Regions from separate parts of the Homo sapiens genome. Here all the other regions are linked to region 1. The links come from fine-mapping of genetic effects on gene expression. A gene starts in region 1. Each other region holds a variant in brackets. All regions are shown on one strand. Distances are between the middles of the regions.

Evidence for each region.
Region 2: its variant is fine-mapped to the expression of STYXL1 in whole blood (TOPMed, PIP above 0.99).
Region 3: its variant is fine-mapped to the expression of STYXL1 in macrophages (Nedelec 2016, PIP 0.95).
Region 4: its variant is fine-mapped to the expression of STYXL1 in whole blood (TOPMed, PIP above 0.99).
Region 5: its variant is fine-mapped to the expression of STYXL1 in lung (GTEx, PIP 0.97).

The regions. Positions count from the first base shown.
Region 1 is chr7:76,045,072-76,050,172 of GRCh38, forward strand. It overlaps STYXL1 (serine/threonine/tyrosine interacting like 1), which reads right to left and starts at 2,929. Exons shown (of 9, transcript NM_001317785.2): 1 at 2,591-2,929. It overlaps MDH2 (malate dehydrogenase 2), which reads left to right and starts at 3,035. Exons shown (of 9, transcript NM_005918.4): 1 at 3,035-3,155. The coding sequence starts at 3,090. RefSeq lists enhancers at 2,402-3,184, 2,630-2,719, 2,830-2,909, 3,185-3,966 and a silencer at 3,160-3,319.
Region 2 is chr7:76,222,449-76,227,549 of GRCh38, forward strand. The region is part of intron 1 of SRRM3 (serine/arginine repetitive matrix 3); the gene reads left to right. Among named protein-coding and RNA genes, the nearest start is that of SRRM3, 23 kb to the left of the region's middle. RefSeq lists enhancers at 342-842, 2,181-2,685 and a silencer at 3,030-3,230. The variant G/T (reference allele first, on the strand shown) is at 1,957.
Region 3 is chr7:76,088,458-76,093,558 of GRCh38, forward strand. It overlaps the pseudogene GTF2IP7. Among named protein-coding and RNA genes, the nearest start is that of MDH2, 43 kb to the left of the region's middle. The variant CTT/C (reference allele first, on the strand shown) is at 1,973.
Region 4 is chr7:75,982,295-75,987,395 of GRCh38, forward strand. POR (cytochrome p450 oxidoreductase) reads left to right here. Exons shown (of 16, transcript NM_001395413.1): 8 at 1-28; 9 at 1,226-1,342; 10 at 1,444-1,562; 11 at 2,483-2,664; 12 at 2,764-2,913; 13 at 3,285-3,555; 14 at 3,629-3,774; 15 at 3,865-3,947; 16 at 4,043-4,561. The coding sequence ends at 4,187. It overlaps TMEM120A (transmembrane protein 120A), which reads right to left. Exons shown (of 12, transcript NM_031925.3): 11 at 5,066-5,101; 12 at 4,537-4,991. The coding sequence ends at 4,878. Among named protein-coding and RNA genes, the nearest start is that of TMEM120A, 9.8 kb to the right of the region's middle. RefSeq lists an enhancer at 475-1,674. The variant C/T (reference allele first, on the strand shown) is at 2,676.
Region 5 is chr7:76,098,181-76,103,281 of GRCh38, forward strand. It overlaps the pseudogene GTF2IP7. Among named protein-coding and RNA genes, the nearest start is that of MDH2, 53 kb to the left of the region's middle. The variant T/G (reference allele first, on the strand shown) is at 2,721.

The DNA.
Region 1 (5,101 bases):
TCCTTTGGTATAACCTCCTTTATTTTTCTCCTCTCCTTTGTATAACCCGACTTCCCTCTTTATGTATTTTCCACACCTCTTTCTTTCACTCCTCAAACCCAGATGAGCACAGACTGTTACCCATTCTTCCCATGAGACTTCTCCCACACTGGCCCTACCCACTCCATTTCTATGGCCACCACCGTAATTCAGACCTTTGTCATCCATAAAATAGATTCCTAAACAATCTCCCTGAATAGATTCCTAAACAATCTCCATTTTTTTTTTCCTGGGAATTCTTAGCATACAAGGTCAGTCTAATCTTCCTCAAACACAGTTCTGGCAGTGTCACAAAAGCCTGATTGGCCAGGTGCAGTGGCTCACGCCTATAATCCCAGCACTTTGAGAGGCTGACTCGGGCAGATCACTTGAGGTTAGGAGTTCTAGACCAGCCTGGCCAACATGACAAATCCCTGTCTCTGCTAAAAATACAAAAATTAGCCAGGTGTGGTGGTGCACACCTGTAATCCCAGCTACTTGGGAGGCTGAGGCAGGAGAACTGCGTGAACCCGGAGGTGGAGGTTGCAGTGAGCCGAGATCGCGCCACTGCACTGCAGCCTGGGCAACAGCGTGAGGCTCCATCTCAAATAAATAAACAACCTTTGATAAACACTTGCTTCCCAAGAAATGAAATACAAACTTCTCAGCTAACATTCATGGGACCGGCACAATCTAGTTTTTCCCAACCTGCTGTTTCCAGCTGTACCTAAAACCACTCAACTCTCCACAAATTCACTGAGGCCCTTTCAGCCCAGTCGCATGTTGGACAAAAAAAACAGAAGAAAGACTTAGTACCTGGCAAGACTTAATACCTGGCTCTGAGGTGCTCTCAGTTACAAGACAGAGGAGTAAATAATTACCAGAAGATGCAGTCAGTGATAAGATAAACAAAGGACACTGCTTGCCCTAATGTCCCCACTCCAAAATAAATGATCTATTCACTGTCCCCTGAATACTGGCCTATGCTTATTTTTTCCCGCTAGGATTTTATTTGGCCTTTTTTCTCCTCCTTTCCTGTCTAAACATTTCCCATTGTTAAATGCTCAGGCCCTAGTGCCCCTCCTTTGAGAATTCTGATTCCAAGGCAAGGGATCTTTCCCTCCTCTGGAGTTGAATGTTCCATTGAGAAACACCTACTCTTCCAGCATGTCTCAGCTTATCTGCTGTGTGTGTGTGTGTGTGTGTGTGTGTGTGTGTGTGTGTGTGTGTGTGTGTGTGTGTGTGTGTGTGCGCGCGCGCGCGCGCGCGCTTTTGAGCCGGAGTTTAGCTCTTATCACCCAGGATGGAGTACAATGGCACAATCTTGGCTCACAGCAACCTCCACCTCCTGGGTTCAAGGGATTCTCCTGCCTCAGCCTCCTGAGTAGCTGGGACTACAGGCACACGCCACCATGCCCAGCCAATTTTTGTATATTTAGTAGAGATGGGGTTTCGCCACATTAGCCAGTCTGGTCTCAAACTCCTGACCTCAGGTGATCTGCCCGCCTTGACCTCCCAAAGTGCTGGGATTACAGGCATAAGCCACCACACCCGGCTTTTTTTTTTTTTTTTTTTGAGACAGAGTCTTTCTCCGTCGCCCAAGCTGGAGTACAGTGGGGTTATCTCGGCTCACTGCAACCTCCCTCCACCTCCCGGGTTCAAGCGATTCTCCTGCCTCAGCCTCCGGAGTAGTTGGGGCTACAGGTGTACACCACCACGCTGGGCTAATTTTTGTATTTTTAGTAGAGATGGGGTTTCACCATGTTAGCCAGGCTGGTCATGAACTCCTGGCCTCAAGTGATCGGCCCGCCTCAGCCTCCCAGAGTGCTGGGATTACAGGCATGAGCCACCTTGCCTGGGGGTGTTGTTTAATTTTAAAAATATGTATCAGGCCGGGCGCGGTGGCTCACGCCTGTAATCTCAGCACTTTGGGAGGCCGAGGCGGGTGGATCACGAGGTCAGGAGTTCGAGACCAGCCTGACCAACGTGGTGAAACCCCGTCTCTACTAAAAAAAAAATACAAAAAATTAGCCAGGTGTAGTGGTGCGCTAATCCCAGCTACTCAGGAGAATGAGGCAGGAGAACCACTTGAACCTGACAGGCAGAGGTTGCAGTGAGCCAAGATCGCGCCACTGCACTCCAGCCTGGGCTAGAGAGACTCCGTCTCAAAAAAATAAATAAATTCATACATTTAAGTAATAAACTCATTGTGAGCAAGGAATTCTACTCGACTTTCTGTCTGCGTAAACTCTACAAATCCACTTGGCCTCAGCCACAGTGTCTTTATTCGTAAAGCAGAAACAGTGGGACCGTCAGAGCACTGCCGGGCAGGCGAGAGAAGACAGGAACTGTATGACCACGGAAGTTGTTGTCCCTACAACCTATTTGCTCATCTGGAACACAGAATAGTGGTCCTCTAAAGCTTGCAGGGCTGGAGGTCGCCATTATCAGCAGTGGTGTCACTAAACCTGAACCCAAGGGTCTCTGCAACTTGGGAAACGACGGCCCGGATCTGAGGAGATGGCCCCTTCCTCCCACCCCGCCTAAGGACTCTCAGCCTCCCTGACCCTACCTTTCCGGAGCTCAGAGTCCCCTCTGGCCTCCAAGGGCAGAAGGAATGGGTTTGGCTGAGGTCGGGGGCTCGGGTCTGGGACGCGCTCCACCTCCCCGGCTGCGCGACTATGGCCAGGCTCCCTGTCGGAGCCTCTGCCTGGGGCCCCACCTGGAAAAATGGCTCCTCTAAGGCGCTTCCAGCCTAAAGCCCGTCCTCTTCCACCTCTTGGGTGCAGACTGGCCCTCCCACTCCGACCGCAGGTCCCCCACCGGCCACACAGACGGCTACGCTAGAACCCAGCCAAACACCGGGGTTGCCAGGATGGTCCCACAGCTTTCCTTTCCGACTCCCGGAAGTGGCCGTGATCTCACGAGATCCCGGAGGCGAGCGCGACCGGAAGTCCGGTCACTCTCGCGAGGCCCCAGAGAGCAGGCGCTGGGCAGTGTGGAGGTCGTTGGAGTCACTTCCCCGTCACCAGCTCCTGTGCCTGCCAGTCGGTGCCCCTCCCGCTCCAGCCATGCTCTCCGCCCTCGCCCGGCCTGCCAGCGCTGCTCTCCGCCGCAGCTTCAGCACCTCGGCCCAGGTAGGCCAGACGAGGGGCGGCCTGCAGGCGGAGGCCCCCCGGCCCGGGCCACGTGCGTCCCCGGTTCGCGGGCAGCTCTGACCCTCTCCAGGCCAGCCTGGACCGCAGGGATGCCCGGCACTGGCTGGAGACTGTGGCGCCCGGGGCAGGCCCTGACACTGGCCTGGAGGTGCGGGGGAGAAAGCCGGGGAAAAGGGGGCGAGGTAGTCCCGCTCCAGGGCCGGTCCATTTGTCAGGGTTCCCCCAGGTCTCCCAGATTTCCCAGAGGACCTGCTCTTGGCTTGCACGCCTTCAAGGTTGGGAAACCAGGGCTCTGCATCTGAAAGTAAACTTACGTTTTTTTCTGCAGCGTTCCATTGCTTTGACGTAGCTAATCTCCTTGCAGCATCCGTGTGAGTTGTGCGTGAATAAAAGAAATCGTATACTTCCTAATTCCATAGTATGGACAAACCGAGGCTAGAGAACTGGGCCAGGGTTACAGTCATTTGGCCAGAGGATTAGAATTCAGCGCTTCTGACCTGAAGACGGCTTCCTCTTAACCTTTTTGGAGGATCTCTCCTGCTGTGGGCGGACTGAGCCTGCCGCCAGGTGTCTTAACAGTGCTTGACTTGGCCCGCGACCACTTAAGCCTAGGAGCCTAGGCTATTTTTAGCCATCTTCTAGAATGGTGGTTCTTAAACTCTGCAGTGTGTCAGAATCACCAGAAAGCTAATAAAAAACAGACGTCTGGGTTCATTGAAGAAGCTTAAGACTGCGGGGGGGGGGGGGGGGGTCCGCATTTTTACCAGGTGAATCTAATTAAACCTAATTTTGAGAACCCAGGAGGTGCTCGCATTGCCTTTTAATTACGACGCCCAAGAGGGAGGTAATTTTAAAGGGGAATCCAAATTTATCATCGAAGTTCTCGAGTTTCCTGTACATCCAGTTCATTTGAAAAATAAATACAAATGCTCCTGGATTGATGGCTACTTCCCATACCCATCGCAAGTTGGTAATATCCTAAGTCAAAAGGCGAGTTTAACTTTGTGTATTTTCAACTTGCAATGGGTTCCCACAGGCAACCCCATTGTAAGTTGAATGTACCAAATGCTTTTGCGCTGCGGTGAAGTGGGGGCCCAGCTGTATACAGATAAGTACATTAAGTACCTGTGCTTGCCAACAACTATGCTGGGTGCTGCAGGGGATACCAAGATAAGTGAGAAGTGACACTTGATATGGGACAGGAATGAGTAAACTTAGGACAGGTGGAAGCGATGAAGGTCTTAGGGAATGAGTAAACTTAGGACAGGTGGAGGCGATGAAGGTCTTAGGGAATGAGTAAACAGGACAGGAGGGATGAGGTGTGGGGGAGGGGCAGCCAACCAAAGAGAGGACAGGGGTGTCCAGGGAGAGGTTGAGTTTTGGTAGGACCTTCAGATATCCGACATATTTATTGAGCTAGGTACTGGAAATACAGCGGTGAACAAAACACAGAAGTCCCTGCTCTCACGGAAATTACTAGATATTTTACTTATTGCCCCACTCATTATAAAGTATCTTAAAATAGTGATGAACATGCAAGAAAAATGGGGATTGTAGGGTGCTTGTGTTAGGGAAGAGGGTACCAATTTTATTTACTTTTTTTGATGCAGTGCCTCGCCCTGTCGACAGGCTGGAGTGCAGTGGCGTGATCTCGGTTCACTGCAGCCTCCACCTCCCAGGTTGGAGCGATTCTCCTGCCTCAGCCTCCCGAATAGCTGGGACTACAGGCGCGCACCACCGTGCCCAGCTAATTTTTGTGTTTTTAGTAGAGATGGGGTTTCACCATGTTGGCCAGGATGGACCTGACAGAGTCCCACTCTGTTGCCCAGGATGGAGTGCAGTGGCGCCATCTTGGCTCACTGCAACCAACTCTTGGGCTCAAGCTATCCTCCTGCCTCATCCTCCCGAGTAGGTGGGAATCACAG
Region 2 (5,101 bases), 180 kb after region 1:
CCAAAATGCAAATCTGACCTCCCCAGCTCAATACCCTTCACTGGCTCCCTATTGCCTGCAGGGTGTGGTCCTAGGTCCTCAGCCTGAGTCTGAAGGCCCTGGGGACCTGGCCCTCCCTCCCCTCCTGGCTTAGTGGGCTCAGCAAGACAAGCCCATGTTTTGTTTTGTTTTTTTAATTTTTTTAATTTTTTGAGATGGAGTCTCCCTCTGTCTCTCAGGCTGGAGTGCAGTGGCGTGATCTTGACTCACTGAAACCTCTGCCTCCTGGGTTCAAGCAATCCTCCTGCCTCAGCCTCCCAAGTAGCTGGGATTACAGGCACCCGCCACCATGCCTGGCTAATTTTTGTATTTTTAGTGGAGACAGGCCAGGCTGACCAGGCTGGTCTCGAACTCCTGACCTCCAATGATTCTCCTGGCTCAGCCTCCCAAAGTGCTGGAATTACAGGATTGAGCCACCGCGCCCAGCTTCAAGTCCATGCTTTTCCCTCTTTCCTCTCCATGCCTTCTTCCTGCTCACCCCCACACCCTGACCAGGACATCCTTCTCCTCCTCCTTTGTCCCGCCAACTCCTACTTATGCTTCAAGATCTCTCCTCCAGGGAGACCTCCTAGCTATGCTCCTCTCCTGACGCACCCCAGCTGTTAGATGTCTCTGCCATGCATCCATCATCCCCAGCATGATAAGCACCAGTGCTTCTCCTTCTGCATTTCTCTCGTGTCCTCTGGTGAACCCCAGAGTAGCCACTCACAAATAGCTGTGACCTGAATGAATGACCCAACCCTGAAGTTGATGGGGTGTCTCTTGGTCCTCTGGTCCTTACCCCCCCAGCCCCACGCTCTTGGGCAGTGAGCACAGGGGAAGCTTTCAATATAAAGTGTTCAAGGCTGGAGGTCTGCAGAAGGGTCCTTACACAGGGAAGGGAAGGGTCAGCAGGAGAGTGCTCCAGGGAATATGTCCCTGTCATGGCTGCACCTGGCTTCAATGCCAGGATTTGGAGTGGGGACACACCTAGATTCCTTGGACATGATGCAGATGGCTTTTCTTTTCCAGCTTGATAAAGTATCTTGACAAACGATTGTTGCACACACTTATTTTTAACAAGACCCAGAATGAGTTTCACAACTTAAGGACCTGGTTTCATGGGTATTTATCAGTTCTGTCTCGTTTCTGACAGTTGGAAAGAATCTTTTTCCTCAGGAGGCACATCCTTGCCCACCTGCTGTCACCACACTGGGCTTTTTCTCTGGAAGGTCTCATCCTGCGTTTGCAGCCACCACCTTCACAGGAATGCAGTTTCCTGGATCATAAATTCCATTCCACTGTAGCCCTCTTAGCCAAGGGTCCCTGGATCTTAACATGCCCTTGGCTTTTGCCTTCCCTTCCCTTCCCTTCCCTTCCCTTCCCTTCCCTTCCCTTCCCTTCCCTTCCCTTCCCTTCCCTTCCCTCCCCACCCCTTCCCTCCCCTCCCCCAACTTGCCCCCCTCCCCCTCTCCCTTCTCTTCCCTTCCCTCTTTTTTTTTTGACAGAGCATCCCCTCCCCTCCCCCCAATTCCCCCTCCCCTGCCCCCACTTCCCCTCTCCCCTGCCCCCACTTCCCCTCTCTCCCTCTCCCTTCTCTTCCCTTCCCTCTTTTTTTTTTTTTTTTTTTTTGAGACAGAGTCTTGGTCTGTCCCCCAGGATGGAGTGCAGTGACACGATCACAGCTCACTGCAAGCTCCGCTCCTGGGTTCAAGCGATTCCCCTGCCACAGCCTCCTGAGTAGCTGGGAGTACAGGCGCACACTGCCAGTCCTGGCTAATTTTTTGTATTTTAGTAGAGACCGGGTTTCACCATGTTGCCCAGGCTGGTCTCAAACTCCTGAGCTCAGGCAATCTGCCCACCTTGGCCTCCCAAAATGCTAGGATTACAGGCATGAGCCACCGCGCCCGGCCAAAGACACATCTTTCAAAGGCACAT[G/T]TCTAACATCATTCTCTTCATGAAACCTTCCCTGACCATCCTAGGCAAAGGTAGAGCCTCCCTGGTCTCTTTTTTGCTCCTGCAGGACTGGGTGGGTGGGTGGGAGAATGGCATCAGAATCTCTTCATAACAAGCCTGTTACCGCAAGAAAGGATGAATGAATGATCCCACTAAGCTACAAGCTACAAGACTAGGGAATATTGTCTCCGTCGAGGTATTGCTCCTCACAAGAGGGTATTAGCTACGAGGGTCTGCCCACAGACCCTGACCCAAATGATGAATAAAACGTACACTGATACACAGAGATTCTGTTTTGCCAGTCCTGCTGAGTGACCGCCTACACACCAAGAGAGGTTTGTCACTGTGGCCGCCCCGATCAGCTAGGGAGACTCACATTTATTCATTAAGATTAGTTAACAAAAGCTTGAGTCAGCGCCATTAGAGGTAATTGACATTGAGGACTTCCCGAGTAAAAAGCACACATCAAAGGCTCGTCTTGAGACCACATGAGTAAACAAGTTAACTAGATAACTTCCCCACATCCCGTTATTTACTACTCTAATCTATTTAACTGAAGGTAATGGGACCAGCCCACCTTCGCCCCGGTCTATTACCGAAGTCATGTGAAAACCCTCAGGCCTTCCGAAAGGGTTTTGTGGCTATCATAACTAATATTTTTTCCACCAGCCTGACCGAATCCCAACACTCCATTTTACAGATGAGGAAACTGAGGCTCGGAGAAGTTTAATGACTTTTCCTGATCACCCAGGCAGAAGTAGTGGAGCCAGAATTTAAGCTAAAGTCTTCTGACTCCAAGTCCTTGTCCTGGTCTAACACTCTTTTTCCTGGCCCCAGTAGAAGACAGCAGAAAGATCTTAGAAGTAAGAAGGTGGTTAAATTGTGTGACCACAGACGAAGTGCTCAAGTGCTTACTTGAAGCTGTGGGAATCTGTACCTTTGAGCGTGTGGAGGCTCTGAGTCCTGACATTACCTCTGGGGAGGCATGCCTCTGGCTGGCAAGGCCAGGAAAAAAAAGCCCCTAGAGGAACGGTGCTGCCCCCCTCCCCGCCCCCCCCGCCCCTTTCCCCGGCAAAAGAGGCTTCTCAGCCCCGGCAGCAAATGGGGCCCCCTGAACTGGTGATGGGGGTGCTGTCCGTGGTGCTGGAGGACTGCGACGCTGCCAGAGACAAGGGGAGCAGGGAGGAGTTTGCTCACTCCTGTAATCCCAGTGCTCTGGGAAGCCAAGGCGGGGGATCACTTGAGGCCAAGAGTTTGAGACCAGCCTGGGCAACAACGTGAGACCCTGTCTCTACAATAATAATAATAATAATTAATCTCCAGTGCCTTTTACGAGACATTCATTGCATACTAGGTACTGTGAGGGCATTTCCCATGCATTAGTCCTTTACAACAAACCTATGAGGAAGATGCTATTATTAAATAGTTTCATTTTACAGGCAAGGAAACTGAGACCCAGAGAGTTGAAGTCACGTGCCCTAGGTCTCTCAGCTTATGAATTCCCAAAGATCACTCTCCTGTCTCCCTCTCAAATCAGGGGTCCCCAGGGCAGGGCTGGGCCTCTTCCCAGACTCATCTGTGGTCCACTTCTCACTACAGCCCATTCCCTCTCCCCCAGACCTGACCAGGTCACTACGATCTGAGCATCTTCTCCCTCTGAGCCCCAGGGTGAGTGCTGACCTCATTAGCTAAGAGGCCTCTGTGCCTGTCAGCAGCTGACTTTCCGAAACAGGCTGGACCCTGCAGTACAGATGAGCTGTTTCACCTTCAATTAATCACTTGCAGGTAGCAGCATCCAGTTTGTGGCCCACTGTGTCCACACCCAGGCTTGCTCAGGAAACCCAGGCTTGGGCTTGTGGGAGGGAGGCAACTCCAGGGACCCAGCCAGGAGGCTGGGAAATCAGGCCTCTAGGCTTTTAACCACTTCCTGGCTTGTAGAAGAAGGAGTGTGCCCCTTTGGCAAGCATTAAACTAGGGCTTCATGACTTAATCTACACATGGGTTTGGCTGGCTCCAGCATCTGGGCTTGCCCTTGGGAGCTGACCCAGTGCTGGGGACAGCCTCAGTTGAACTCTAAGGGTGGCCGGTGGGGCCCCGGCTCCTGGCTGTATCAGCAGAAAGGAAGTGGGCTGAAGGTCTGGTGTTATTTATTTATTTATTTATTTATTTATTTATTTTATTTTTTGAGATGGAGTTTTGCTCTTGTTCCTCAGGCTGGAGTACAACGGTGTGATCTCAGCTCACTGCAACCTCCGCCTCCTGAGTTCAAGCAATTCTTCTGCCTCAGCCTCCCAAGTAGCTGGGATTACAGGCATGTGCCACCACACCCAGCTCATTTTTGTATTTTTAGTAGAGACAGGATTTCACCATGTTGGTCAAGCTGGTCTCAAACTCCTGGCCTCAGGTGATCCACCTGCTTCGGCCTCCCAAAGTGCTGAGATTACAGGCATAAGCCACCACACCCAGCCTGGTGCCACACACTTAGAGTTAGTATTACCCAGACTTCCAGAGTAGGAAAGGACCCTTGGGGTCTTTGAGTCATTGTTCAGTGGGAGAAACAAGGGTGCAGAGAGGGGAAGGGACTTGTTCATGGTCTCACAGCCAATCAGTGGTAGGGTAAAGACTTCCCATGTGCTGCTCTCAGCCAATCAGTGGTAGGGTAAAGACTTCCCATGTGCTGCTCTCAGCCAATCAGTGGTAGGGTAAAGACTTCCCATGTGCTGCTCTCAGCCAATCAGTGGTAGGGTAAAGACTTCCCATGTGCTGCTCTCAGCCAATCAGTGGTAGGGTAAAGACTTCCCATGTGCTGCTCTGCCTCCAAAGAAGTACAGTGTCAATGCCCCCAAAGACCAGAACAAGTTAGAGTTAGGGTTCAGATTATAGCTCTAGACTCCATATCTGCCTGCTTGCCCCTGCAAACCCCTCACCCTCAAGCACCTCCAATTTGTTCTCCGTGTTCCCCATCACAATAAATGGCTGCACCATCCACCTGGTCACCCAGGCCAGAGACCCGGTGTCATCTAAGCTGCCTCCCCCATCCCACATCCAGTCAATTACAAACCCTGCCAGATTGGCCCATTTATTTCTTGAATCCTGGTTGTCCTCACTGGCTCTGGCAGCCCTGCCT
Region 3 (5,101 bases), 43 kb after region 1:
CAAAAAATTAGAAAATGAGCTGGGTGCGGGGGCACATTCCTATAGTCCCAGCTACTTTGGAGGCTGAAGTGGGAGGATCAAAGTGGAAGCTGCAGAAGTAGAAGCTGCAGTGAGCTCTGATCCCACTGCACTCCAGCCTGGGTGACAGAGTGAGAAAACATACACACACACACACACACACACACACACCCCTCATCTCAGTCTGCCCAGCCTTCACACACACACACACACTCATCTCAGTCTGCCCAGCCTTCACACACACACACACACACACACACACACACCTCATCTCAGTCTGCCCAGCCTTGACTAGTGAAAAAGGTCTTCTGGTTACAGAAGACGTATGCTCTTTTTTAGGACCGGGATGGACCAGCAAGCTTGTTCACAGCCTTTCCCTCATCCTCTGCTTAGTTTTCCAAGAAACTTCAGGTGGAAAGGGAGTCCCTGGGGAAAAGACCTAACTCATCAGGTTACCAAAGGAGAAATTTGCATCCTTTGTCAATTAATAAATGGAACACCTGCCTTAAAAACCAGGGAGTTCTGCTAGGGTGAATCACTCCCTACAACCCTGACCTATGCAGGGAATGTAAAAACCTGGAGTTTGGGGACCTATAATATTGAAGGCCACATTGCAGATGTGGAGACCTTACCAAAGTACAGCCTTTCCACAAAGCACTACCGAACACCAGCTGGCTGTCTCCATGGGACACCGCTGTATCTCTGGCTCTCGTTTCCCCCAGAGATGCTCTATTCCAGCCTTCTCTTACATTTTGTATCCTGCACAGTTCCTGGCATAAGGACTTACAACATATCAGGCTGCTATGTTAATGGTGATCTACTGCAGATCCAACTTGAGATTCTGGCAGGGCGCTTTGTGTTTGAGAAATTAAAGGGGAGAGAATGGACCCAGCCTGCTGGAATATAAAAAATTTAAAGAAGAAAAAAATATTAAAATAAAAATTTCTCCTAAAGAGCACTCAAAAGCACACTCCCACCAATGCTAGATCTATTTACCTCTCTCTTGCTTTTTTTTTTCTGAGATAGGGTCTCACTCTGTCACTCAGACTGGAGTGCAGTGGCAAGATCACTGCTTACTGCAGCTTTCAACTCCTGGGGTCAAGCTATCCTCCCACTTCAGCCTCCTGAGTAGCTGGGATTACAGGTGAATGCCACCATGCCTGGCTAATTTTTTAATTTTTTGTAGAGACGGGGTCTCACTATGTGGCCCAGACTGGTCTTGAACTCCTGGGTCAAACTAATCCTCCCGCCTTCGCCTCCGAAAGTGCTAGGATTATAGGCTTTAGCCACTGTGCCCAGTCTATTTATCTTTCTATAACTCATATATTAAATCTTCCTCCTTAAATCACCTCCTACCCACCCATCTGCAGGGATAGCAAACACAGGTCTCAGCAGGTCAGGCAACCTACAGGAGGGAATGAGGCCAGAGTAATGTGGGAGACCAGGGGGAACTGTAGCAAACTGCAAGGTATTCACTTCAATAGTTCTTCAACACTGTGATGGTCAAACCAAACACAGAAACAGGAAGCCCAGTTCAGTCGCCAGCAGCCAATGTGGGATATTTGATCTACATGCTACAGGGCAAACTGCTTACGATAAATGACCTGGTCTCCACCAACCTGCTCTTCAAGTCCAGCCGCTCCTGCCCAACTCCCTACACTCTACTGACACGACCCACATTCACAGTACTCTCCTGAAACTTTGCTTGTTCACTCTTTTTTTATTTTCCCAATGAATATTTCTTTTTCTTTTTTTTACTTTTTTTGAGACAGAGTCCCCTTCTGTTACACAGGCTGAAGTACAGGCGGATGATTATGGCTCACTGCAGCTTCGTTATGGCTCACTGCAGCTTCCGTCACCTGGGCTCAAGTGATCCTCCCACCTTAGCCTCCCAAGTAGCGGGGATTACAGTCATGTAACACCACACCCAGCTAAATTTATTATTTTTTCTTGT[CTT/C]TTTTTTTTTTTTTTTTTTTTTTCAGACGGAGTCTCGCTCTGTTGCCCAGACTGGAGTGCAGTGGCATGATCTCAGCTCACTGCAACCTCTGCCTCCTGGGTTCAAGCAATTCTCTTTCCTCAGCCTCCCGAGTAGCTGGGATTACAGGTGCATGCCACCATGCCTGACTAATTTTTATATTTTTAGTAGAGATGGGGTTTTACCATGTTCACTAGGCTGGTCTTGAACTCCTGACCTCAGATGATCTGCCCACGTCGGCCTCCCAAAGTGCTGGGATTACAAGTGTGAGCCACCGTGCCTGGCCAGTTTATTATTTTTTCTAGAGACAGGGTCTCACTACGTTGCCCAGGCTGGCCTTGAACTCCTGGGCACAAGCAATCCTCTGGCCCCCACCTTCCAAAAAGCTGGGATTACAGGCTTGCGCCAACACATCAGGCCCTAACAAACACTTCTTGAGCTCCTACTATATACCAGGCACTATAATAGGTGCCCAGGAAACAGCGGTGAACAAGGTATAACAGTTTCTGCCCTTGGCCGGGCGTGGTGGCTCATGCCTGTAATCCCAGCACTTTGGGAAGCCGAGGCCGGTGAATCACCTGAAGTCAGGAGTTCGAGACCAGCCTGACGAACATGGTGAAACCCTGTCTCTATTAAAAGTATAAAAATTAGCGGGGCATGGTTGTGCATGTCTGTAATCCCAGCTACAGCTACTCAGGAGGCTGAGGCAGGACAATCGCTTGAACCCAGGAGGCGGAGGTTGTAATGAGCTGAGGTTGCGGCGCTGCACTCCAGCCTGGGCAATGAGAGCGAAACTCCGTATCAAAAAAAAAAAAAAAGTTTCTGCCCTCGCAGAGCTTATAGGGTAGCAGGAAATTGATACAGTTTGAACGTTTGTCTCCTCCAAATCACATATTGAAATTAAATCCCTAATGTTGGAGGTGGTGCCTGGTGGGAGGTGTGTGAGTCGTGGGGGCAGATCCCTCATGAATGGCTTGGTGCCTTCCCCAAGGTAATGAATGAGTTCTCTCTCTACTAGTTCATGTGAGAGCTGATTGTTTAAAGAGAGTGGCATCTCCTCCCCTCTCCCTTGCTCCCTCTTCTCAACAAGTGACATGACGGCTCCTCCTTCACCTTCCGCCATGAGAGGAAGCCTCCTGAGGTCTTCACCAGCAGATGCTGGTACTACGCTTTTTTTTTTTTCTGAGACAGGGTCTCACTCTGACACTCAGGCTAGAGAGCAGTGGTGTAATTATGGCTCACTGCAACCCTGACATCCTGGGCTAAACAGGTCTTTTTACCTTAGCCTTTCAAGTAGCTGAAACCACAGGAATGCATCAGTGCACCACCATACCTGGCTATTTTTTTTTTATTTTTAGCAGAGACAAGATCTTACCATGTTTCCCAGGCTGGTTTCAAACTTCTGGGCTCAAGCAATCCTCCTGCTTCAGCGTCCCAAAGTGCCGGGATTACAGGTGTGGGCCACTGCTCCCAGCCTGGCACCATGCTACTTGTATAGTCTGCAGAACTGTGAGCCAAATAAACTGTTTTTCTTTATAAACTACCCAGCCTGAGGTGTTTCCTTATAGCAATGCAAAATGGACTAATCTAGGAATCACAGGCCAACACTTACCAGACTGTGATGAGCACATGACAGAAGTACAAAATGGGACTGAAACGTTCTCCAGGGGCTTCTTGTTGCATCAGAGAGAGTGGGGTGAGACATCTTGGCTGAGGCTAAAAATGAGCAAAGATGAGAGTGAAAAAGTGATGATGGAGGTAGGAAGAGGGTTTCCTGAAGGACCAGTAAAGTCCCCCAAGGAAACTAACATTCCTTGTGGCTGGAGGGTAGGGATTTGGGGAGGGTGGTGCAGGATAAAACTGGGAAGGTGAGCGGAGACCAGCTCTTACCAGGCCCTGTGGCCAAATTAGTTTGGACTTCGTCTTAAAGGCAATGGGCAGTCACCAGCAGGTTTTAATCAAGAACTATTTTGACCCAAATTTGCCTTTTAGGAGAATTCCTCTGGCTTCAGTGAACAGGCCGAAGTGAGCAAGCCTAATAGTCAGAAAGACAATTGGAGGCCCTCACAATAAACCAGTGTAAAAGAGAAAAGGGCTGGGCATGGTGGCTCCTGCCTGTAATCTCAAAACTTTAGAAGTCCAAGGTGGGTGGATGGCTTGAGCCCAGGAGTTTGAGACCAGCCAGAACAATGTGATGAAACGATGAAACCACATCTCTACAAAACACAAAAATTAGCTGGGCATGGTGGCTCGTACCTGTGGTCCCAGCTACCCCAGAGGCTGAGGCGGAAGGATAGCTTGAGCCTGAGAGGTTGAGACTGCAGTGAGCCAAGATCAAACCACTGTGCTCCAGCCTGGGCAACACAGGGAGACTGCCTCAAAAAAAAAAAAAAAAAAGAAAGAAAAAAAGAAAAAGAAAAAGATCCCATTCTTCACTTATTAGTGCCCTAACATTCTCATGAGAACCTTGGTGACAGTGAATTCAACTGTCATTGTAATTCAGCAACCAACACATTTAAGTTTGTGTTTGATTTCCAATAATATTAGCCCTGTGGATACAAGAAATAAGGAATTGTGTTTGGGCTATCATGGAAGCTCTCTGGATCTTAGACCATGACTTACGCTGAGAGGTAAAGACTTGAGCTTTTTGTTTTTCTCTCTGTGTTGAGTGCAGCGGTCCCCAATTTTTGGGGGAGCAGGGACCAGTTTTGTGGAAGACAGTTTTTCCATAGACTGGGGGCAGCAAAGGTCAGTTTTGGGATATATCAAGCACATTACGTTTATTGTGCACTTTATTTCTATTATTATTACATTGTAGCATATAACGAAATACTTATATAACTCACCATAATGTAGAATGACTGGGAGTCTTGACCTTCTTTTCCTGCAACTAGATGGTCCCATCTGGGGGTGATGGGAGATAGTGACAGATCATCAGGCATTAGATTCTCCTAAGGACAGAGCAAGATAGATCCCTTGCATGCACAGTTCACAATAGGGTTCGTGCTCACATGAGAATCTAATGCTGCCGCTGATCTGACAGGAGGCAGAGATCAGGTGGTAACGTGGGGAGCAGCTGTAAATACAGATGAAGCTTCGCTCGCCCAC
Region 4 (5,101 bases), 63 kb before region 1:
GGCTGAAGAGCTACGAGAACCAGAAGCCGTGAGTGGAGGGAGCGTGGCTTGGGGCAGACGGCTCTATGGCCACTGGTGCACCCCAGGCTCAGTCTGCCGTGTATCCCCATATCCCCACAGGGCCCTTCTCACCAGACCCCGTGCCCCGAGTGGGTGTGAGTGTCCACGACCTGTCCACGGCCCGGCCCCAGGAGACTGGCACTCGCCCAGTTTGTACTGAGCTCACTTAGCCACCTTACTCTGCACTGCCCAGGGCAGCGGGGCACATCCCACTTCTCGACTAGGACAGTGCATTGGCCTCTGTGGCTAGGATCCTCTTTGGCAGAAGGGCTCATTTTCTTAGAATCTATCTCCATAGATAGACTTGGGGGAGAAACCTGGCGTTCCTCTCTGTGCCCTTGATGGCCCCTGGTTGCTGCCCAGATTCCTGCCCGAGCCACCCAGGGAAGTCCTCGTGCCACTGCATCCAAGACCAGCTGCCCTGCTTTCTGTAGGCCTGCCCCAGCCTGGCTGGAGCGAGAAGCCCTGCATGTCGGTGGCTTTCCGGAGTGCAAGTTTCTCTCTTGTCCACGGTGTAGTCCAGGACGTGTGGGGGTGGGGGAGCTGTGCTCCTCATTTGGGGACCAGCCACCTTCCAGCCTGTGGCACCGTCAGCTTGGGCCTCACAGTTCTTTTAGGGGCCAGCCTCAGTTTCCACATCTGTAAACAGACACTGATGACCCAGCTCTGCCCATGTGGTGGGACTATAGAGAGAACTGCATTAGGGCTGGGCGAGGTGGCTCACAGCTCTAATCCCAGCACTCTGGGAGGCCGAGGTGGGTGAATCACCTGAGGTCAGGAGTTCAAGACCAGCCTGGCCAACATGGTGAAACCCCGTCTCTAGTAAAAATATAAAAGTTAACCAGGCATGGTGGCGAATGCCTGTAATTCCAGCTGCTCAGGAGGCTGAGGCAGGAGAATTGCTTGAACCTGGGAGGCAGAGGTTGCAGTGAGCCGAGATCGCGCCGCTGCACTCCAGCCTGGGTGGCAGAGCGAAACTCTGTCTCAAAAAAAAAAAAGAGAACTGCATTGGACCAGGCTGGGAGAGCCCTTGATGTAACCGGTGAGATTTCCTCATGGAGATCTCTGAGATTCCCTGTGCTTTGTGCAACCAGAAGCGTCCTTGGAGACGGAGACTCAGATCAAAGCCCCGGCCGCTCACTGTGCTTCTCTCCTCCCCACCCAGCCCCTTTGATGCCAAGAATCCGTTCCTGGCTGCAGTCACCACCAACCGGAAGCTGAACCAGGGAACCGAGCGCCACCTCATGCACCTGGAATTGGACATCTCGGACTCCAAAATCAGGTACCAGCTGCCACTGTCACCCCCTGAACCCTCACTCTGGGCCTCCTGACCTGGGGCAGGGCCAGCCTTCCGCCCCTCCCGAGCCTCACATCTCCCTCCAGGTATGAATCTGGGGACCACGTGGCTGTGTACCCAGCCAACGACTCTGCTCTCGTCAACCAGCTGGGCAAAATCCTGGGTGCCGACCTGGACGTCGTCATGTCCCTGAACAACCTGGATGGTGAGTGCCACAGTCAGGGCGCCCTGCCGGGCTCAGGCAGCCGCGGGATTGGGCCTGTAGGAAGGCCCTGGGTTGAGCTTCTGCTTAGGCCTGAAGCCCCGGTGCCTGGGAGGCCCTTGCACCGAGACTCCACGGTTACAGGATCCCAAGCAAACGGGAGGCGGGGTGGCCCTAGGGGTCTAGCCCTCTCTGTCGGGGTTCCCCCTACCCCGTCACTGTCATAGTCCTTTAAGGGAGTGAGGTGCTGAGGCCTGGTGGCAGAGGCAGCCCTGGCTCCCCCATGGCCACTGTGTCCTGCTGGGAAGGAGGGCCTGGCTCCACGACCCACCTCTGCCGGCCTGGGGCTGCCCCCACCTCCTCACTGAAGTCAGGAGTCAGCAGCCCTCCCAGGCCCCCAAGGGTGCACAGTGGTGCCGAGTGGCAGTAGCCATTACGCGGGGCTGCCTGGGCCTGGTGGGGCTGCCCAGCCTGAGCCTCCCGCTGTGAAGCCCTCGGACCCCACTGGTCACCAACCTGGGCCGAGCCCACCTCGCCCCACCCCTGCTTGCCGGTCCTCAGCTGCCATGCCAGGGCTGCCCTTACTGTCGGCTTCCACAGCCCGCCTGTAGGGAAGCCTGGGCGGGGCTGTGTCAGACCGTGTAGTGTGCGGTGAAAGCACAGCGGGTGCGTTAGTGTGCAGGGGCTCCCCCGCACCTCCCCTAGCAGGGTCCTGCCTCTGATGAGGACTTCCTGTCTGGTTGGAGGCCCCAGACTTGGCCCCAGGGCCAGGGAGGCATCAGAGAGCATAGGCCTTGTTTCCAGCACCAGCTGGGGCACCTGTTGCCGCAGAGCTGGCCCAAGGTGTCACCCCCTCCTGCCGCAGCCACCCATCCCCAGGAGGCGGCCGCCTACCCCAAGTCCTGCCTGTCTCTTCCCTGCAGAGGAGTCCAACAAGAAGCACCCATTCCCGTGCCCTACGTCCTACCGCACGGCCCTCACCTACTACCTGGACATCACCAACCCGCCGCGTACCAACGTGCTGTACGAGCTGGCGCAGTACGCCTCGGAGCCCTCGGAGCAGGAGCTGCTGCGCAAGATGGCCTCCTCCTCCGGCGAGGGCAAGGTGCGCCCCCT[C/T]AGCCCCCGCAACCTCCGCCCCGTCACCCCGCCGTTTTCCGAGCTCCGTGGGCCCCAATCAGCCCCATCTCACCCCCGTGTCTCTTAGGAGCTGTACCTGAGCTGGGTGGTGGAGGCCCGGAGGCACATCCTGGCCATCCTGCAGGACTGCCCGTCCCTGCGGCCCCCCATCGACCACCTGTGTGAGCTGCTGCCGCGCCTGCAGGCCCGCTACTACTCCATCGCCTCATCCTCCAAGGTGAGGGCCGGCACTGCCCTGCCAGCCACACGCTGGAGGCCCAGCCCTGCTCACAGCAGGCAGAGTGCAAGGCGGCACAGGAGCTCCGAGATCTGAGCCCTGAGCTCCAGTTCCAGCCCCAGCGCAGCTCCAAATGCCTCCCCAGGCTGTGGACTCAGTCGGGCTGGCTTGTGAGATTCTCAGCATCTGTCCAGCCCCGGTCCCCAGAACCAGTCCGGGAAGCCGCTGGGGAGGGGGCCTCTGAGGTTTGGGTGCCAGGTGGGCTGGAAGAGGCCCTGGGTGAGTGGGGCTGGCCTGCAGAACGGGACTTGGGGCCGGGGCTGGGCAAGGGCCTCGGTGTGGCGGTGGAGCTCACACGGCCCTCCCCACAGGTCCACCCCAACTCTGTGCACATCTGTGCGGTGGTTGTGGAGTACGAGACCAAGGCTGGCCGCATCAACAAGGGCGTGGCCACCAACTGGCTGCGGGCCAAGGAGCCTGCCGGGGAGAACGGCGGCCGTGCGCTGGTGCCCATGTTCGTGCGCAAGTCCCAGTTCCGCCTGCCCTTCAAGGCCACCACGCCTGTCATCATGGTGGGCCCCGGCACCGGGGTGGCACCCTTCATAGGCTTCATCCAGGAGCGGGCCTGGCTGCGACAGCAGGGTGAGTGGGGTCCCATGGGGGAGAGGGGGTGACGACTGGGAGCCCCGCGCTCACCCCGGCCCCTGCCACGCAGGCAAGGAGGTGGGGGAGACGCTGCTGTACTACGGCTGCCGCCGCTCGGATGAGGACTACCTGTACCGGGAGGAGCTGGCGCAGTTCCACAGGGACGGTGCGCTCACCCAGCTCAACGTGGCCTTCTCCCGGGAGCAGTCCCACAAGGTGAGACGGGCGGGCACCCACGAAGGTGGGCATGAGGCTGGCAGGGCCACAGCCACAGTGCCCCCCTCACAGCACCACCCTTGGCCCCAGGTCTACGTCCAGCACCTGCTAAAGCAAGACCGAGAGCACCTGTGGAAGTTGATCGAAGGCGGTGCCCACATCTACGTCTGTGGGTGAGTGAGTGGGGTCACTGGAATAGGGGGCAGGGAGGACAAGGCCCTGCCTGCCACAGTTGGCCCAGCCCCCAGCACCCCCTCTTCCTGCCCAGGGATGCACGGAACATGGCCAGGGATGTGCAGAACACCTTCTACGACATCGTGGCTGAGCTCGGGGCCATGGAGCACGCGCAGGCGGTGGACTACATCAAGAAACTGATGACCAAGGGCCGCTACTCCCTGGACGTGTGGAGCTAGGGGCCTGCCTGCCCCACCCACCCCACAGACTCCGGCCTGTAATCAGCTCTCCTGGCTCCCTCCCGTAGTCTCCTGGGTGTGTTTGGCTTGGCCTTGGCATGGGCGCAGGCCCAGTGACAAAGACTCCTCTGGGCCTGGGGTGCATCCTCCTCAGCCCCCAGGCCAGGTGAGGTCCACCGGCCCCTGGCAGCACAGCCCAGGGCCTGCATGGGGGCACCGGGCTCCATGCCTCTGGAGGCCTCTGGCCCTCGGTGGCTGCACAGAAGGGCTCTTTCTCTCTGCTGAGCTGGGCCCAGCCCCTCCACGTGATTTCCAGTGAGTGTAAATAATTTTAAATAACCTCTGGCCCTTGGAATAAAGTTCTGTTTTCTGTATTTGCCTGGTATTGTGTGAGTAGATCTGGGACCTCCACCTGCATCAACTTAACTAACTCAGACCCCAGGAACCCATGTGGTGGGGCCACCCAGCCCTCCCCTCCCCCAGGAGAACACACACGCTCAGGCCACCTCTGGGCCTCTCTTTATTGAGGGCACTGGGCCCAGGTCTTCCTTCAGGGCCCACAGCGCCCATAAAACCCAAGGGAGAATAGAAGAGACCCCCTGATACACGCACACTCGAGGGGCGCCTCCCATCCCCTCCCACAACACACAGGACAGAAGCCCCTCTGGGCCGGCAGGGGAAGGCCCAGCCTCAATCCTTCTTGCTCCCGTGCCGCTGACTGTGAAACTTGTGGTGCACAACCCTCAGGGTGGTGAAGAAATTGCCGAGGAAAAGGAGGAGGAAGGGAAAGCCGCACATAAGCACCTGCCGGAGGAATAGGGTGAGGGCTGGACATGGGCCTGGCCCCCCATCCATCCTGTCCAGGGACCCCGGCTCACCTGCCACTCCTTGCACTGAGGGTCCTGGGCCAGGTT
Region 5 (5,101 bases), 53 kb after region 1:
GAAAAGTAAAGGTTTGAATGGATTTTTAGTTCTCGGCATTTTTGAACAGAAATAGTCAGGTATTAAGTTGCTCAAAGATGCCCACAAGCTTTCATAGGAGAAACATCTAATTCATAACCAAGAGTTTATGTTATTAAGTAAGCTTTCCTTTAACAGGATGAATGAATGAAGAGTTTAAATACTCTAATCCCCATTTAGTCATCTGGTATACTCTCTGTATACTCTCAGTCATCTGGTATACTCTGTCATCTGGTATACTCTCTGTGAGGTATACTCTTAAGTCATCTGGTATCCTCTCTTTGAGTATGCCAGATTATTAAATGGAAATTACTGCACCACTAAACACCAGTACTGCAAACCCTTATTTAAAAAATCGACACCTAGGACATAAAAAAAAATGATCCTAGGCTGGGCGTGGCGGCTCACGCCTGTAATCCTAGCACTTTGGGAGGCCAAGGTAGGCAGACTGCCTAAGCTCAGGAGTTTGAGACCAGCTTGGGCAACATGGTGAAACCCCATCTCTACTAAAATACAAAAAATTAGCCAGATGTGGTGGTGTGCACCTGGAGTCCCAGCTACTCGGAAGGCTGAGGCAGGAGAACTGCTTGAACCTGGGATGCTGAGGCTGCAGTGAGCAGAGATCATGCCACTGCACTCCAGCCTGGGTGCCAGAGCGAGACTTTCATCTCCAAATAAAAAAGAATGATCCTAATGCGGTTATTTCCTTTTGCATTTATGAGGAGATGGAAGAAATACCCATATTTGATGGTTGTTTGGGAACTGTCTTTGGTATTGTAGGAAGTATTTTAATACTGTGAACATGAAAAGATGAGAACCCTGCAGACCCCGTGGGCATGGAGAGAAGGAAGTACATTAGAGGATGTTGTAGGAAATACTTTCATTCCAGGCACTGCTTTTTAAACCACCCCTCAACTTTCTTTCCTTAAAAGAACAGAAAAAACAAGACAAAAGATGAAACATTCCATGTGACCCTCTGCACCCTTATTTGTTGTAATAAAGGAAAAGCATTTTAGGGATTTTCTTGAGTGCAGTTTATGATGTGATCCATGTTATTTATTTCCTGTTAATAATTTTCAAAATTTCAATTAAAGACATTCAGAAATTTAGCTTTATCACAGGCAGCTGTTCACAGGTAAAACTAGTTTGGTTACCTTCATCTGTATAAACATGTAGCTAGTGAATTGACATAACTATTAAACTGGAGAATCAACAGAAACATGCCAAGGACTGGCCCTTACCTTCCACAGTGACCTCAATTTCAGGAACCTTTTCATTACTCTCAGGGCTTCATGGTCTTTTTAGAAACTGCGAAGCTATAAAATAAAGCACAGAATTACTTTAGTATATTGTAGAAAAAAATACAGAAGGAAATGCTTTATAAGAGCGGAGTATTAAAATTCATTCAGTTTGGCTCTTTTCAAAGAAACCTGCAGAATTAAACTTGTAGTGTAATCCTCCACAGGGGACTCAACAAAGCCATGGAAACATGAATGAAGTGGGATTGCAAATGTGACACTTCCAACAAAATTTTTTTTAAAGAAAAAGAGGTCCATTAAATAAAATACCTTAAAAAGCCAAGAAATTAACTGCAAGTCCCACAAAGAGAATGGCCAATGATTCTGTGTGATTTAAGGAATGCTGATAAAGAATGTCTTAATGTAGTGAAATATAATACAAAACACAGGTAATCTCTTACCTTTAGTGTTTATTTTATTAGCAACTCCAGGAGGCAAGTAGGAAATAACCAGTTCAGGTCTAGAAAGAAAACCAAGAAATGTTACAGCAGCCAGTACAATGGTGGCCTCACAGCTAGTAAAACGGTTGTGATATGACCAGGGTTTTTTCCTAAAGGTGTTCACAGAGTCATCCTGTAATGTCACAATAATTCCTATCATTGTAGATGAAAACCCTGACTTTTCCTTCCCATGACTGGCAAGTAATTGTATGAAAAGTAAATTACTTCTTTCATGAAAAAGAAAATTAACACTAGTGTACTTTCTTCAGCCACCAAAATTCTGCAGAAACGCAGATATAATTAAAAAAAAACCTCCATCATCAGGCCGGGCACGGTGGCTCATACCTGCAGTCCCCATACTTTGGGAGGCTGAGGTGGGTGGGTCACCTGAGGTCAGGAGTTTGAGACCAGCCTGACCAACTTGGTGAAACACCGTCTCTACGAAAAATACAAAAATTAGCCGGGCATGGTGGTGCATGCCTGTAATCCCAGCTACTTGGGAGGCTGAGGCAGGAGAATCACTTGAACCTGGGAGGTGGAGGTTGCAGTGAGTCGAGATCGTGCCATTGCACTGCAGCCTGGGTAACAAGAGTGAAACTCTGTCTCAGAAAAAGGAAAAGAAACTCAATCATCAATATTTACTTGCTAATAAGATTGACCCAGGAATAACAGAGCAGATAAAACCCAGCAGATTAAACTTCATTCAAGTACTTAGGCATACTGCAAGCCACCACAGTGTGTCTGAACATCGGGGAGGCAGTGGTCACTATTCTTGCACTGATGAAGATGACTGAGTATGGGATGGGGAATGGCAGGGGCAATGGAGAGTGCCAGGACTGCAGCTCAGAGCCAGGCTTTTCCATCAAGGACTTACAGACACACCTGTCACTTCTAGCTAGAAAAACATTTTAGTAGAAATGTCATTTTATTGTTTTAATTCCAGAAATGACTACAGTGGCAAATA[T/G]AACTTACTTTTTTATTGTTGTTGTTGTTGTTGTTGTTGAGGCAGAGTCTCACTCTGTCACCCAGGCTGGAGTGCAGTGTTGTGATCTCGGCTCACTGCAGCCTCTGCCTCCCAGGTTCAAGTGATTCTCCTGCTTCAGCCTCCCAAGTAGCTGGGATCACAGGTGCCCGCCACCATGCCCGGCTAATTTTTTGTATTTTTAGTGGATACGGGGTTTTGCCATGTTTGCCAGGCTGGTCTCGAACGCCGGACCTCAGGTGATCTGCCCACCTCAGCCTCATAAAGTGCTGAGATTACAGACGTGAGCCACTACGCCTGGCCTAAAACTTACTTTTTACCAACAAATTTGATTTTATTACTCCCATGGACGATCCTTTCAAGTCATGGAATTCCAAACCAGGAGGGCTTCGAAAGGGAATCCTGTCTGGCAAACCTTCTACGTACAGGAACTTGGGATTTGATTCAAACACAGGATATGGTTCTTTTACTGCCTCAGTGAGTCCAAGAACTTAAGCTGAAAGTGCAAGAGAACATAATTTGTGGAAAATAAAATCTGACACGGACATTCTTTTATTTGTATCTGCATTCTCAAGTACATTATGGACAAGTTCCCTACAATCAAGCAATATTTACTTCATATTGAAGGCATTTTGCTTAGGATATTGGCCAAATCTGAAGAACAAGCTTAAAAAATAAGTACTTTTGAGAGGAACACTTTAACCCTTTCACTCAAAAGGAGAGTTATGTTATTAGCCAAAATGACCTCCAGAGTATAGCTGGGACTACAGGCACCCGCCACCATGCCTGGCTAATTTTTTGTATTTTTAGTATACTAGAGACGGGGCTTCACCGTGTTAGCCAGGATGGTCTCGACCTCCTGACCTCGTGATCCGCCCGCCTCAGCCTCCCAAAGTGCTGGGATTACAAGAATGAGCCACCGCGCCCCGCCCACATTTTAGAAAATGAATTCTAAGACACAGAGAGTTCAACTACCTTTCCAAAGATGACACAGCTAATTACACAGCAGACCAGGTGGCCTGACCCCAGGACTTTTGCCCTTGATCTCTACACTACCATGTTGAGCACAGCAGTAAATATTTCATACAGTTTTATCCAGATTTTTCCTGTTGGTTGTGGTAAACCACGTTTTGTTGTTTGGAGACAAAGTGTTGCTCTGTTGCCCAGGTTGCTGGTGTGCAGCGACACAAACATGGCTCACTGCAGCCTCAACCTCCTGGGCTCAGGCAATCCATTTCAGCTTCCCAAAGTGCTGGGATTACAGGAATGAGCCATCATGCCTGGCCTCACACTATATTTTAATGCCTTTTTTGAAAATGGAAACTTTTACCAATGACTCACTTCATTCAAACTAATGATAAGGAAATGATGCTATTCTCTTTTGTTTTGTTTTTGCATTTTTTTTTCTTTTTTGAGACAAGGTCTTGCTCTGTTGCCCAGGCTGGAGTAGGTAGTGCAATCATGGCAGCCTCAACCTCCCAGACTCAAGCAATCCTGCCCCCAGGATTCCCAAGTAGCTGAGACTACACGTGCATGCTACCACGTTTGGCCAATTTTTGTTGTAGACACAGAGTTTCACCATGTTGCCCAGGCTGGTCTCAAACTCCTGGGCTCAGCTATCCTCTCCCCGCAGCCTCCCAAAGTGTTGGGATTACAGGCATAAGCCACTGTACCTGGTTGATGCTGTCCTTTTTAAATGCATTTTTCCTTTTTTTTTTTTTTTTTTGAGACGGAGTCTTACTCTTTCTCCCAGGCTGGAGAGCACTGGTGCAATCTCGGCTCACTGCAGCCTGGTCTTGAACTCCTGACCTCAGATGATCCACCCGCCTCGGCGGCACACAGTGATTTTGCTCATTTTAGATATTACAACTTTTTAATTAAAAAAAATTTTTTTTCTTTTTTTTGAGCTGCAGTGCAGTGGCATTATCTCGGCTCACTGCAACCTCTGCCTCCCGGGTTCAAGCGATTCTCCTGCCTCAGCCTCTTGAGTAGCTGGGACTACAGGCGCATGCCACCATGCCCAGCTAATTTTTGTTATTTTTAGTAGAGACAGAGTTTCACCATGTTGGCCAGGATGGTCTCAATTTCTTGACCTCGTGATCCACCTGCCTCAGCCTCCCAAAGTGCTAGATTACAAGCATGAGCCACTGCGCCTAGCCAAAAAAAAAATTTTTTTTGAGACAAAGTCTAACTCTGTCATGCAGGCTGGAGTACAGTGGCAGAGTCACAGCTCACCGCAGCCTCGACTTCCTGGACTCAGGTGATTCTCCCACCACAGTCTCCCAAGTATCTGGGACTACAGGTGCACGCCACCACACCTGGCTAATTTTTTTGTATTTTGTAGAGAAGGAGTTTTGCCACAT